Regions from separate parts of the Homo sapiens genome. Here region 1 is linked to region 2. Evidence: fine-mapped expression QTL. A gene starts in region 2. The other region holds a variant in brackets. All regions are shown on one strand. Distances are between the middles of the regions.

Region 1 (5,358 bases), 43 kb before region 2:
GGGACGATCAGAACACAGGGAACAGGGTAGCGAGACTGGCAGGGAAGCCCCCGGGTGTGCCTTGAGGAGGCTGGCCCCGCAGAAGACAGGGCGGCCGCTACTCCGCACTGGGCCCCATCACGACCCCAGGAGCAGGGAGCAGCCTGGGTCCCAGTGGGTCTGCCTGAGCCTGGCACGGTGCAGAGTACCCCAAAAGGACAGTTCCAGGCCCTGGGGGGCTGTCCAGGAGCTCCCAGCTAGAGAAGGCTGGGAGCACCAGTGCATGAGCTTGGGTGAGAAGCTGCCTGCAGGCAGCATTGGGAGCCCCCCAGCACGCCTGGCTGCTCACCAAGATACCGAAGCACGGCTTCCAGCGGCTTGCGTACCGCCTGCTTCAGCACCAGCGGGCTCTGGGAGGCTTCGGGCAGCCGCGCCGTGCCTGCGGGGTACCACACGGTGTGAGGGGTGGGGCACCCCCAGGGGAGCACGGGACCCTGCCTGCGCCTTGACCTGGGAGCCCTCACTGGGCTCGGCCATGTCAGCACCGAGGAGGACGTGGGGCTCCCTGAGATCAGAACTCCCAGTGGGGCTACAGGCTGGGCCCCAAGGTTGCTGCTCTCTCCCCACCACCCGCAGGAACAGAGTAAGCGGGGCGTTGGGGTGACTCACACTCGGCCTTGATGGCCGCGCTGTTGATGGGCAGGTAGGGGTGCCGCGCAGCGTGCCACGGGCGCAGGATCTCACGGCACAGGCGCCGGGCGATCCGCGTCAGCTTCGTCGTGTGCAGATAGAAAGCCTGCCTGGTCTTCATGGCAAACTTGGGGCTCCCGCTGCTCCGGGCTGGGAGGCCGTGGGGACTCTGCGGAAGGGGGCGCAACCGCCCCAACACAGCGCCATGACCGGGGGCCGAGGACCCGCGTGGCCGACAGGCTCATGGCAGGCAGGGCGGGTGTCCCCCCCCTTACCATGTTACTGCGGTTTGGTCCTGGCCTCTCTCCATCTAACCGGGTTGGCATTTTCAAGCCACCATATTTCTTCCAATATGTCCAACAAGATGCGCAGAGACGACACTGCATGTTAGGGGGACCCCAAGAATACCACTGGTAAGACTGTGTGGCTACGGACAACAAAGTTGGAAATAGACGGATTCTTAAGCAGAACCAGCGATGTCAGAGTATTCCCCGCCACCCCCACGCCGGCCGCCCCCACCCGCCAGGCACCCCCACACGTTCCCCGAGGCTCTCCCAACCACACCCCTGGGACGCAGCCCCCATCGTCAGTGGGCCCCTTGCAGGCTGGGCCATGCTGGAGCCCTCAGGGCCAACGCAGGCACCACGGCCCACAGGCGGGCGTGCGGTGTGCCCCCGGCCATCCAGGGCACTTACTGTAACAGCTCTCGCAGGCCCGGCCAGCCCCAGGGCTCTGGCCCGGCGCCCCCGTGCCGTTCACCACACCGGCCTTGACGTTGTTGACGCTGATTTGGTTCGGATTTGGCTTGTTACTTAAAGAGGGAAAGGAGAGACGAGAGGAGTTGCAGGAGCACAAACCTCGAGGGCCCATGTGCCCAGCAGGCACCGCGGCTGACCACCCCTTGTCCAGAACCACGTCCTCGCACCCCTCGGCCTCGGCAGGGATCTTCCTTTCTCCCCTTTCAGTTCCTGGGAGCCACTGCTGAGGTCTGAGCCGTTCTCCAGGCCCCCGTGCTCCCCCTAGCATGGAGCCCAGCTCAGGGACTGAACCCTGGCGGTGTGGGCTGGAATCCCAATGCCCCCTTACTGACCAGGAGGCCAGGACGACAGAGACATGGCCACTGCGTCTGCAGCCAGAACCCCCCAGCCCTGGGCCGCCCTCCCGGGGGCTGCCCCAACTTTCCCAGCCTCTGAGCTTGAGTTTCCTTGGGACCCGCCTGGCCCCAGCACCCTGTGCCCACCCTCCCTGGCCCCCGGGGCCACGAGGACGACGGCTGTGAGGGCACACTTACTAGTTGGGAATATAAACTTGCTTTAACTTGCTCTCAGCTTCAGCTGCTTTCAAGCGTTTCTTAAAACAAAAGAGAAGGTCAGAGGTCAGCAGGCTAGGCCCAGGTTGGGGCTGCAGTGCAGACAGGCTGGAGGCTACGGAGAGGAGAGCACCACGGAGAGGACAGCCGGGCCAGGGACTCAGGAGTCTTCCTTCCCCTCCTGCTGCAGCAGTGCACGCCCACCTGCTGGGAGAGGATGGGGCGCAGGACGGGGAGGCGGCACACCCCGGGCACTGAGTGGCGGGCGGGCTCACCTGCTGCACGTATCTGTCGGTGGTCTTCCACATGTAGTAGTACTCAATGATGCTGGTCAGCGACTTCCACGGGAGCTGGGTGGGAGGAGGCGTGTCACACAAGCAGGAAGGGGCAGGAGGCAGGCACACCATGCAGGCAGGGGCAGGGCTGCGGCCAGAAGGCCACAGAGGGGGCGGGAGGCCAGAGGGCGAGGTGTGCTTGGTGCACGGAGGCCAGGCCCCTGCTGGCAGGCAGGTGCAGAGGGCAGCTGATGAAGCAGGTCCCCCCGCCAGATGCCAAAACACAGTGACGCCAGGGGAAGAGGAGCTGGCACAAGGTCAAGGTCGAGATCTTGCCGAGGTGGCA[C/A]TGACAACCCAGCCTCCATCTCAGCCTTTTTTTTGTTTGTTTTTGAGACGGAGTCTCGCTCTGTCACCCAGGCTGGAGTGCAGTAGTACAATCTCGGCTCGCTGCAACCTCTGCCTCCCGGGTTCAAGCAATTCTCCTGCCTCTGTCTCCTGAGTAGCTGGGACTACAGGCACCTCTCAACACACCCGGCTAATTTTTGTATTTTTAGTACAGACGTGGTTTCACCATGTTGGCCAGGCCGGTCTCGAACTCCTGACCTCAAGTGGTCCACCCACTTCGGCCTCCCAAATGGGATTATAGGCATAAGCCACCATGCCCGGCCATCTCAGCCATTTTTGTTTTTGAGACAGAGTCTCGCACTGTCGCCCAGGCTGGAGTGCAGTGGTGCGATCTCGGCTCACAGCAACTTCCACCCCCGGGGGTTCAAGTGATTCTCCTGCCTCTGTCTCCCGAGTAGCTGGGACTACAGGAGCCTGCCACCATGCCCGACTAATTTTTGTATTTTTAGTAGACATGGCGTTTCACCATGTTGGCCAGGATGGTCTTGATCTCCTGACCTCATGATCCTCCTGCCTCGGCCTCCCAAAGTGCTAGGATTACAGGCATGAGCCACTGCGCCCGGGCTGTGGCATGGATTTAAGAAACCTGTCTTATTAAATAAGGGTTCAGATAGTTCCTCAGTCTGGTCCACTGCATCTGGCAGGAAGGAGAGCGGGGCCTGCTCCCTCGACACAGCCCCGAAGCTGCAGCCTCCCATCCCCGCACCTGGACAGGGCCCCGCAGCCGCAGCCCCCCGAGACCGTGCCTGGGCATGGCCCCGCAGCCGCAGTCCCCTGAGCGCTGCCTCGCTAGGCATCACGTGGGCTCAGCACTGGGGTCTCCTCCGCTGGAACCATGTGCAGCAGGGTCTCCCTCAAATTCCGCCCTGGTCTGAGCCTAGTTGGTGAATTTTGTTTCTAGCCCTCGTCCTCTTGTCTGAACATGTTCTGCTCATCTTGGTTTGTTTTTAAGCCTGGAGAGATCCGTATCCGCCTTGGAGAGGCCGCTGGCCCCAGGGACAGTCAGGGACTCCTCCCGCCCGGCCAAGCTCTCCCCTTGGCCAGAGGCCCCCACACAAAGCTGCACTCCTGCCCCCAGCAGATGCGTCCTCAGGAGCCTCACAGCTGGCTGCTGTCCCTCCTCCTCTTCAGGTCTAGGCACCCTACCCAACCCCATGTTTGTTTCTTCCGAATTCCAGATGCGTCTCCAGCCTCTGCTGCGCTGGCCTGTGCGCTGCTGCCCGGATGGTGCTTTCATCAGATACTAGCCACCCCGCTGTGTCCCGGCCCCTTTGGGGCTCCTCCCTGCCCTGCCACAGTCTCCACCTCCCCAGGGCTGATGGTTGGGGGCCCCACCACCCCCACATAGGGATGCTCTTCTAACAGATTAATTTAGAAGTATTTTAGGAGGGCTGACGGTTGGAGGGTGGGGGTCCTGAGGTGGAGGTACAGGGAAGGGAGACCCCACGCCATGAAGACTCTCTAGGCCTGCTGCTGGGCTAAACTCACGTGAGACAGAAAACAAGGACATGAGGAGTCAAGAGGTTCAGCTTAGTCAAAAACAAAGCAAAACCAAGCCTGGGGCTGGAGGGGGCAGCAAGGAAGGGAAAGTCTCCGTGAGGATACCCTGGCCTCCGTCACCTGGGCCAACCCTTATCCTCATCACGCAATGGTGGCAGGAGCATGGCTCTCTATGCCCAGGCCCCACCAGCGCCCCCATGCCTGTCTGCTGAACCAGTGTGACAGGAAGGACTATGGCGGCCGAGCGCAGCTGAGACAGAACTCATGCAGCTCCGCACAGGGAATCAGGGTGCAGGACAGGCTCCCTCAGGGCAGAGTGGGATGTGGAGCCCACACCCCCGCAGCCTACCTGGAGATGGGCATGGCCAGCCACTCCCCCATCGCCACCCACGGTACTCACAAAATCTTGCTGAATGTCCGTGAAATCCTTCCCATATTTTTCCAGGGCTTCCTCGAAAAGGTTGGCCTCTGATGCAGACCACTCCTCCATCTCGTCCCTGCAGAGCACGGGCCCGCCCTGCGGCACCAGCGCCGAGATGGCCTTGGAGATGTCGTAGATGTTCTTGTGGAGAGTATCCATGGCGTGGAACTGCGGCAGGAGACAGCAGGGTCACCCGGGCCAAGGTGGCTTTTCCTGCACCTGTGGCACGGTACCCCCTCCCTCAGTACCTCAAGGATCCCCTACTGCAGGCCCAGCAGCACAACCCTCCCTGCACCCTCAGCACAGTCTGGCCGAGTTTGGGGTGGATAGGAAAGGCCAGTCCAGGTGGGACAGCACCTCTGCAGGGGTCCTGAATACCTGGGGCAGGTGCTGGGCCCTGGTAGGAAGAAGGGCGCAGCCACTCTGGGCCATGGGCCACCCCAGGTCTCACCTGTCCCGCCCTGGGCCCACTTACCAGGGTGATGTCTCGGGAGGCAGCTGCGGCGCTCATGTGCAGGCTGGGCTGTCGGACGGAGCTGCTGCAGTCCAGGGCCCGTGCGAAGGTGCCCACAGAGCTGGGGAAAGGAGATGCGCTGACCACAGTGTCGGCCAAGCAGGGACTCCCCACAGGCACACCGCTCCCCAGGCGCCAGGGACCAGCGGCCACGGGCAGCACGGACTCCCCCAAGGCACACCACTCCCCAGGTGCCAGGGACCAGGGGCCATGGGCAGCACGGACTTCCCCCAGGCACACCACTCCCCAGGTGCCAGGGACCAGG
Region 2 (5,358 bases):
GGGCACAGGAGCAAGCCCCTTCCCAGGCTGGGTCCCTGCCGGCATCTCCCACAGGCCAGGACTGGCCACCCAGATGGAGCCCGTGCCAGGCAGCCGGCGACAGACGGACAAAGGCTGCTCAGGAGACACTGCACACCTTCCTCTTTCTTGTCTGGGGGCTCAAGAATCCAGACGCCCACCTCCCCGAGCGAGCACCAAGACAGGAAGCCAACCTGCAATGCCCAGCCCACTGCGACCACAGGGCTCTGCCGGGGTCCTGCCGGAACCCAGGGTTCCGGTCCAGAAGCCAGGGATAAATGCCGCTTCTCCTATAGGGACAGTCAGAGTAGAGAGGGGGAGGCCTACAGTCTCACCTGCAGGGAGAGGAAGTCCTCGGGGCGGGCACGTGGGGGGCCTGACAGCTCCGAGCACACCCGGCCACAGTGACCACGGACTGCACACGCAGAAGCAGTCTGGATCCCACGCGTGGCTGTGCTGCCAGCAGACAGCACCCAACCTCCCATGCTCCTCATCACAGGAAAAGAGACCAGCAGCATCTCTGCCAGGCATGGTGGGGCCCCTCCGCCACAGCCTAGGAGTCCAGGCCACCCACCCTCACAGCACTGGAGTGCGTGGGTCAGTGAGGCCCTGGGACGGGCCTGCGGGCACAGGGGGACAGAGGGTTCGGGGAGGGCGGCGCAGCCCCACGAAGGGCTCCTCCCAAGCCTGTGTGGGGCCCAGGGGAGCTGCACCTCCGGGATGGGACAAGGCAGGGTCCTGGCTTTCATCAGCCACAGCACAGCTGCCACAGGGCACAAAAGGACGGCTGAGAGACGAGGTCCTCACCCACACCATGGGGAAACCGAGGCATGGGAAGGTTGGAGGGGGGGCAGCCAGGCTGGCGCCAAGATCACAGGCAGGCAGGCCTGAAGGCCGAGCAATGCAGCCACTAGGAAGGCATGAGTTGGGGTCGGGGTGTCCCCAGCCCTAGAGCCCAAAGCTGCCACCACTCCCCACCCCCAACATGGGTGGGGGCAGGGAGAGCTCTTCTTGGGACCAATCCCAAAACCATGCGCAGTGGGCCCGGCTGGAGCCCAGGCAGCAGGCATCCTCTCTGCCAGGGTGAGAAACTGGGCCCTCATGTCAGGCTGGAAGGGGGGTCTCCAGGTGGGGAGAAAGAACAGGAAGGAACAGGCCCCTCCCTCGAGGGACCCCGCACCCAGGCTGCTCCCTGAGCGTGGGGTGGGCTCAGCGCACCTGGGTCCACACAGGGACCTGGCAAAGCTGTATGAGGCTGTGGGAGGGGCTGCCGCTGGATGGGGTACAGGCCCACCGCCCCTCTGAGAGGACAGGGGAGGCCCAGAGCTGCTGATGCGGACTGACCGCCCATCTCACAGACGGGATGTAGGGGGCTCCCACCGTCCCCAAGGTCACAGGACTGGCCGGCCAGACCACACGGCGTCCAAGGCAGCAGAAGCCACGCTCGAGAGACACAGAGTGTTCTGGGCACTCGGGGTCAGGGGCATGGGGATCAAGCCAGAGCGGGAGTGACCCCAGCTCCCTCCAGCAGCGCAGGCTGCAGGTGGGAAAGGTAATGAGCACCTGCCCGAGAGGGTCACAGGCAGGGAGGGGTCTCAGAGTCCTGGGGAGGGAGGCGCTGATGGAATGATGGAATGCACACGACCCCCCACCTTCCTGTGAAAGACCCCACGGAGTCCCAGGCACACGAAGGAGGGCAAGGCTCAAAGCTGCAGGCCCGGGGGGCCCGAGCAACAGGAGGCTGGGCCCACGGAGGAAGCCCCTGCCCAGGAGGCCCTCCGGCCTCTCCCCAACCCTTGCAAAGCGCCTCCCGAATGGGCTGAGGTGAGCGAGAGGCAGGGAAAAGTTTGGGGGGACTTAGAGGCGTGCTCGGGATGCTCGCTCCCTGCTGAAGACCCCCTGAGGGATCCCTGCTGGGGGAAGCCCCGGGGCCAGGCTGCAGGAGGGCTCTAGGGAGGAACGTGGCCCCTCACCGGGGCTCCCCATCCCCAGAGGGGATGCACCGGAGTCCCAGCACAGGGCCGCGGGCCGGGGGAGACCCCACAGCCCCAAAACTCCTGCTCCCAGACCGGCAGCCGGCGCCTCCCAAGGCCACGTGCTCCCGCTGGGGGCTCCCGGCCCCGGACCCCCGGATGTCCCGCAGGCCCCGCGCCCCCCCGCCACCCCCGCGGCCGCCCCCTCGGCCCCAACAGGTGGGCCGCCCCCCACCCCCGGGCCGCCGAGCCCCGCCCGCCCCCGATGGGGCCGACCCGCGGGGCCATTTTGGGTTGGGGTGAGCACGGCGGGGGGCGGTTCGGGAAGGAGCCGGGGGCCGCGAGGGCGGGCGGGGGGCGCGGGGCCTGCGGGGCAGAGGGGCGGGGGAGGCGGCAGCGGCGGCGGGTGGGGGCTGCGGGCGGGTCGGGGCCGGGCATAAAGGCGGTGCGGCCTTACCTCCGACCCTGTACATGTTGGCGGCCATGTCCGGGCCGGCGGCGGCGGAGGGGCCCGGGGCGGGCGCGGCGCTCGGCGCGGGCGGCCGGGAAAATGGAGGCGCGATGGCGGGGGCGGGGGGCGCCGCAGGCGTTTAAAGGGGCCGCGCTGCTGCCGCCGCCGCCGCCGCCGCCGCCGCCGAGGCCGCCGAGGCCGCGCAGGGACGGGAGGGCCGCGGCGCGGGCGGGAGAGGAAGAGGAGGAGCGGCCGCGGGCGGCGGGGAGGGGCCTCGGGCGCCGCCGCCCACCGCACGGGCCGTTACCGACCCCGCGCCGCCCGCGGCCCGCGCGCCCCTTCCCGGACAGTTCCTCTCGGCGCCCCCGAGTCCTCCCCGCGCGCCGCTTCCCGGGTGGGCCCTTCCACCAGAACCCCCTGGTAGATCCTCCCCTGGTGCCCTGGGGGTAGAGGGGAGATCCTCCACAAGGGCCATTTCCCTGGTGATCCCTCCCTGTGCCCCACAGGTGAGTCCTGCCGTAGCTCTCCAGGGGTTCCTCCTGATGCTGGGGTCCTCCGGCATTCCTCCCTGAGCCCCCCAAGGGCCCTGAAGCTCAGCGGCCCAGCCCTGGCCTCGGGGTCCCCACCCCACACCTCCCTTCCAGGCCTAACCTTTGCCCCCGACACCAGGCAGGGCGTGTCCTTGGCCTTCGCCGCCCAGCCCGCGTGGCATCTCTGGACAGGTGGTCGTGCGCGCCTTGGTGTGGGCAGGCTCCGTAGCCGGCAAAGCCTCCCTGAACCGTGACCTGGTGAGAAGGCCGCAGAGGAGGTGCCTGTGCCCAGAGGCCACCTCCAAAGACCCCACCTGAGGCTGGAACCCAGCGCCTGCTGACCCCGCCAGCCCCAACAGGGCTGGAGTCCAGGAGCGGCCGTGCTCTTTCCGCAGTGAGGCAGCTGCCTTCTCTTCCCACCACCTGTCAGGATGCCTTCCCGTGTGTGCTTGTGCACAGGTCTAAGGAGAGGAGAGTCCAGTGAGTGACCCAGACGCCCCAGCCAGGAAGAGCATGAGGTGCGAAGGGGGCTTCCCAGATGGAGAGAAACAGATGGTCCCAGAGTGGCTTGGAGACAGGTGCAACATCAGTGTTGGGGGAGGTGAGCAAAAGGAGCTGTCTCGGGGTTCCAGGCTGCTGATGTGAGCAGCACCGTGGGTCTCTGTCCTGCCTGCTCAGATGCTGGAGGGAGCTGACATCTACTTGGGACATCCCTCTCTGTAGGACATGGAGCGGAGCGTTCAGGGCTATCAGGAGGGAGCCCCGTGGCCACGGTGCAAGATCTAGGCAGGCGGGACAGACATGGTCAGGATGCTGGGGACACAGCATGGGGAATCCAGCACACAGGACACCATCCAGGTGGGTAGGAAACAGCATGTGCTGGGAGGAAAGCCAGGTGGGGGTCCCAAGGAGAGCGGTGGCCACAATGTCATGGCTGCAGAGCAGACCAGTAAGGAAAGCCCCACCAGGGTTAGCACAGGGCCAGGAACCCGAGCTGCAGGGCGGTGCTGTCTCTGGGGAGAGAGGGCTATGGGTCCCAGGACACATCCTGCGGGCTGGGCTGCAGGGAACAGGAGCTGGCTTGCTGGTGATTGGGAGGGAAGAGCAGCCAGCCAGCGGCCAGGTGCAGGAGAGGGGCAATGACAGACAGGCAGCGTCTCTCCAGAAGGAAGGTGGGGCTGCTGGCCTCCCCTGTCCTACAGCCCCAGCCTACCTCTGTCTCCTCAGCAGGAAAGCAAAGCTGCAGCCTGAGATCTCCTTCCACCAACTCCTGGCATGGCCAGAAAGTTAGCCAGAAACACCAGAAAGTGCCAGGCAGCTAGGAAGCATGGGGAGAGCCCCCTGAAGCTGCGTGTGTAGTGCCTGCTTCCGCTGCCATCCCAGAAATGGACGAGCTTCACCCTGAGAACCCAGCCACACCACTGGGACACATCCTGACAGTGACATGCACACTCTTCCCTGGCCCCAGCCTGGAGAGGAGCCTCCTGAAGACACCAGCCTTTGCTCCTTCTCCCAGTGGGAGTGGAGAGAACTGACTGCTGGAGTGGAGACAGTCAAGGCTGTCCTTCTGAGGGAGCACAGCACAGGGTCTGGTGTCCCAGGGAGGCAATCTGAAATTCAAGCCAGGCCTCCCCAGCGGAGAGGACACACCCCTCACCATGCAGAGTGACGTTTAGTAAACTCTCAAAAGAGAGCACAGAGCCCCACTCCTCCAGCCGACCCATACTCTGCCTCCCCACTCCAGACCAGTGAACAAGGTGGATTGCCCTTAAGCCAGCTCAGAGGCAAAGTCCAAAGACCTCAGGTGAGTCAAACAATAAAAACAAAGAATTAAGAAGAATCCAGCTGGGTGCGGTGGCTCACGCCTGTAATCCCAGCACTTTGGGAGGCTGAGGCGGGAGGATCACGAGCAGGAGGTCGAGACCATCCTGGCTAACACGGTGAAACCCCGTCTCTACTAAAAATAGAAAAAATTAGCTGGGCGTGGTGGCGGGCGCCTGTAGTCCCAGCTACTCCGGAGGCTGAGGCAGAAGAATGGCGTGAACCCAGGAAGCGGAGCTTGCAGTGAGCCGAGATCATGCCACTGCACTCCAGCCTGGGCGACAGAGCGAGACTCCGTCTCCAAAAAAAAAAAAAAAAAAAAAATCCATCCACTCCATCCACTTAGTAGCAGAGCGAATAGACATTCAGGAAAGAGCTTTCACGTCAGAAAGCACTACAGAAGTAGTGGCATATCCCCGGAGGCTGAGGTGGGAGCATTGCTGAGAGGTGGCACGTGACCACATCCATGTCATTCAACAACAGAAAAACAAGTCATCGAGGGTGTGAGGGGCCGGTGAGAAACCCAGTATGGAAGAAAACACAACTGGGCTGAGCGTGGTGGCTC

Which allele goes with the higher level. Positions count from the first base shown, and alleles are read on the strand shown. Sizes are in standard deviations (SD) of each study's normalised expression.
With allele A in place of C in region 1, the expression in whole blood of the gene that starts at base 2,685 in region 2 is higher (large effect, 0.75 SD a copy in Lepik 2017).

The links. PIP is the estimated chance that this variant, and not a neighbour inherited with it, causes the effect.
Region 1: its variant is the best candidate, but not a certain one, in a credible set for the expression of MTA1 in whole blood (Lepik 2017, PIP 0.77).

The regions. Positions count from the first base shown.
Region 1 is chr14:105,460,154-105,465,511 of GRCh38, reverse strand. MTA1 (metastasis associated 1) reads right to left here. Exons shown (of 21, transcript NM_004689.4): 9 at 5,055-5,154; 10 at 4,559-4,747; 11 at 2,254-2,328; 12 at 1,961-2,019; 13 at 1,365-1,480; 14 at 945-1,096; 15 at 649-838; 16 at 329-418. Among named protein-coding and RNA genes, the nearest start is that of CRIP2, 12 kb to the left of the region's middle. RefSeq lists enhancers at 214-735, 736-1,258. The variant C/A (reference allele first, on the strand shown) is at 2,600.
Region 2 is chr14:105,417,154-105,422,511 of GRCh38, reverse strand. MTA1 (metastasis associated 1) reads right to left here and starts at 2,685. Exons shown (of 21, transcript NM_004689.4): 1 at 2,449-2,685. The coding sequence starts at 2,476. MTA1-DT (MTA1 divergent transcript) reads left to right here and starts at 2,773. Exons shown (of 2, transcript NR_125385.1): 1 at 2,773-3,490; 2 at 4,203-4,931. RefSeq lists enhancers at 1-472, 473-1,140, 3,819-4,488 and silencers at 2,592-2,851, 2,942-2,991, 3,022-3,121.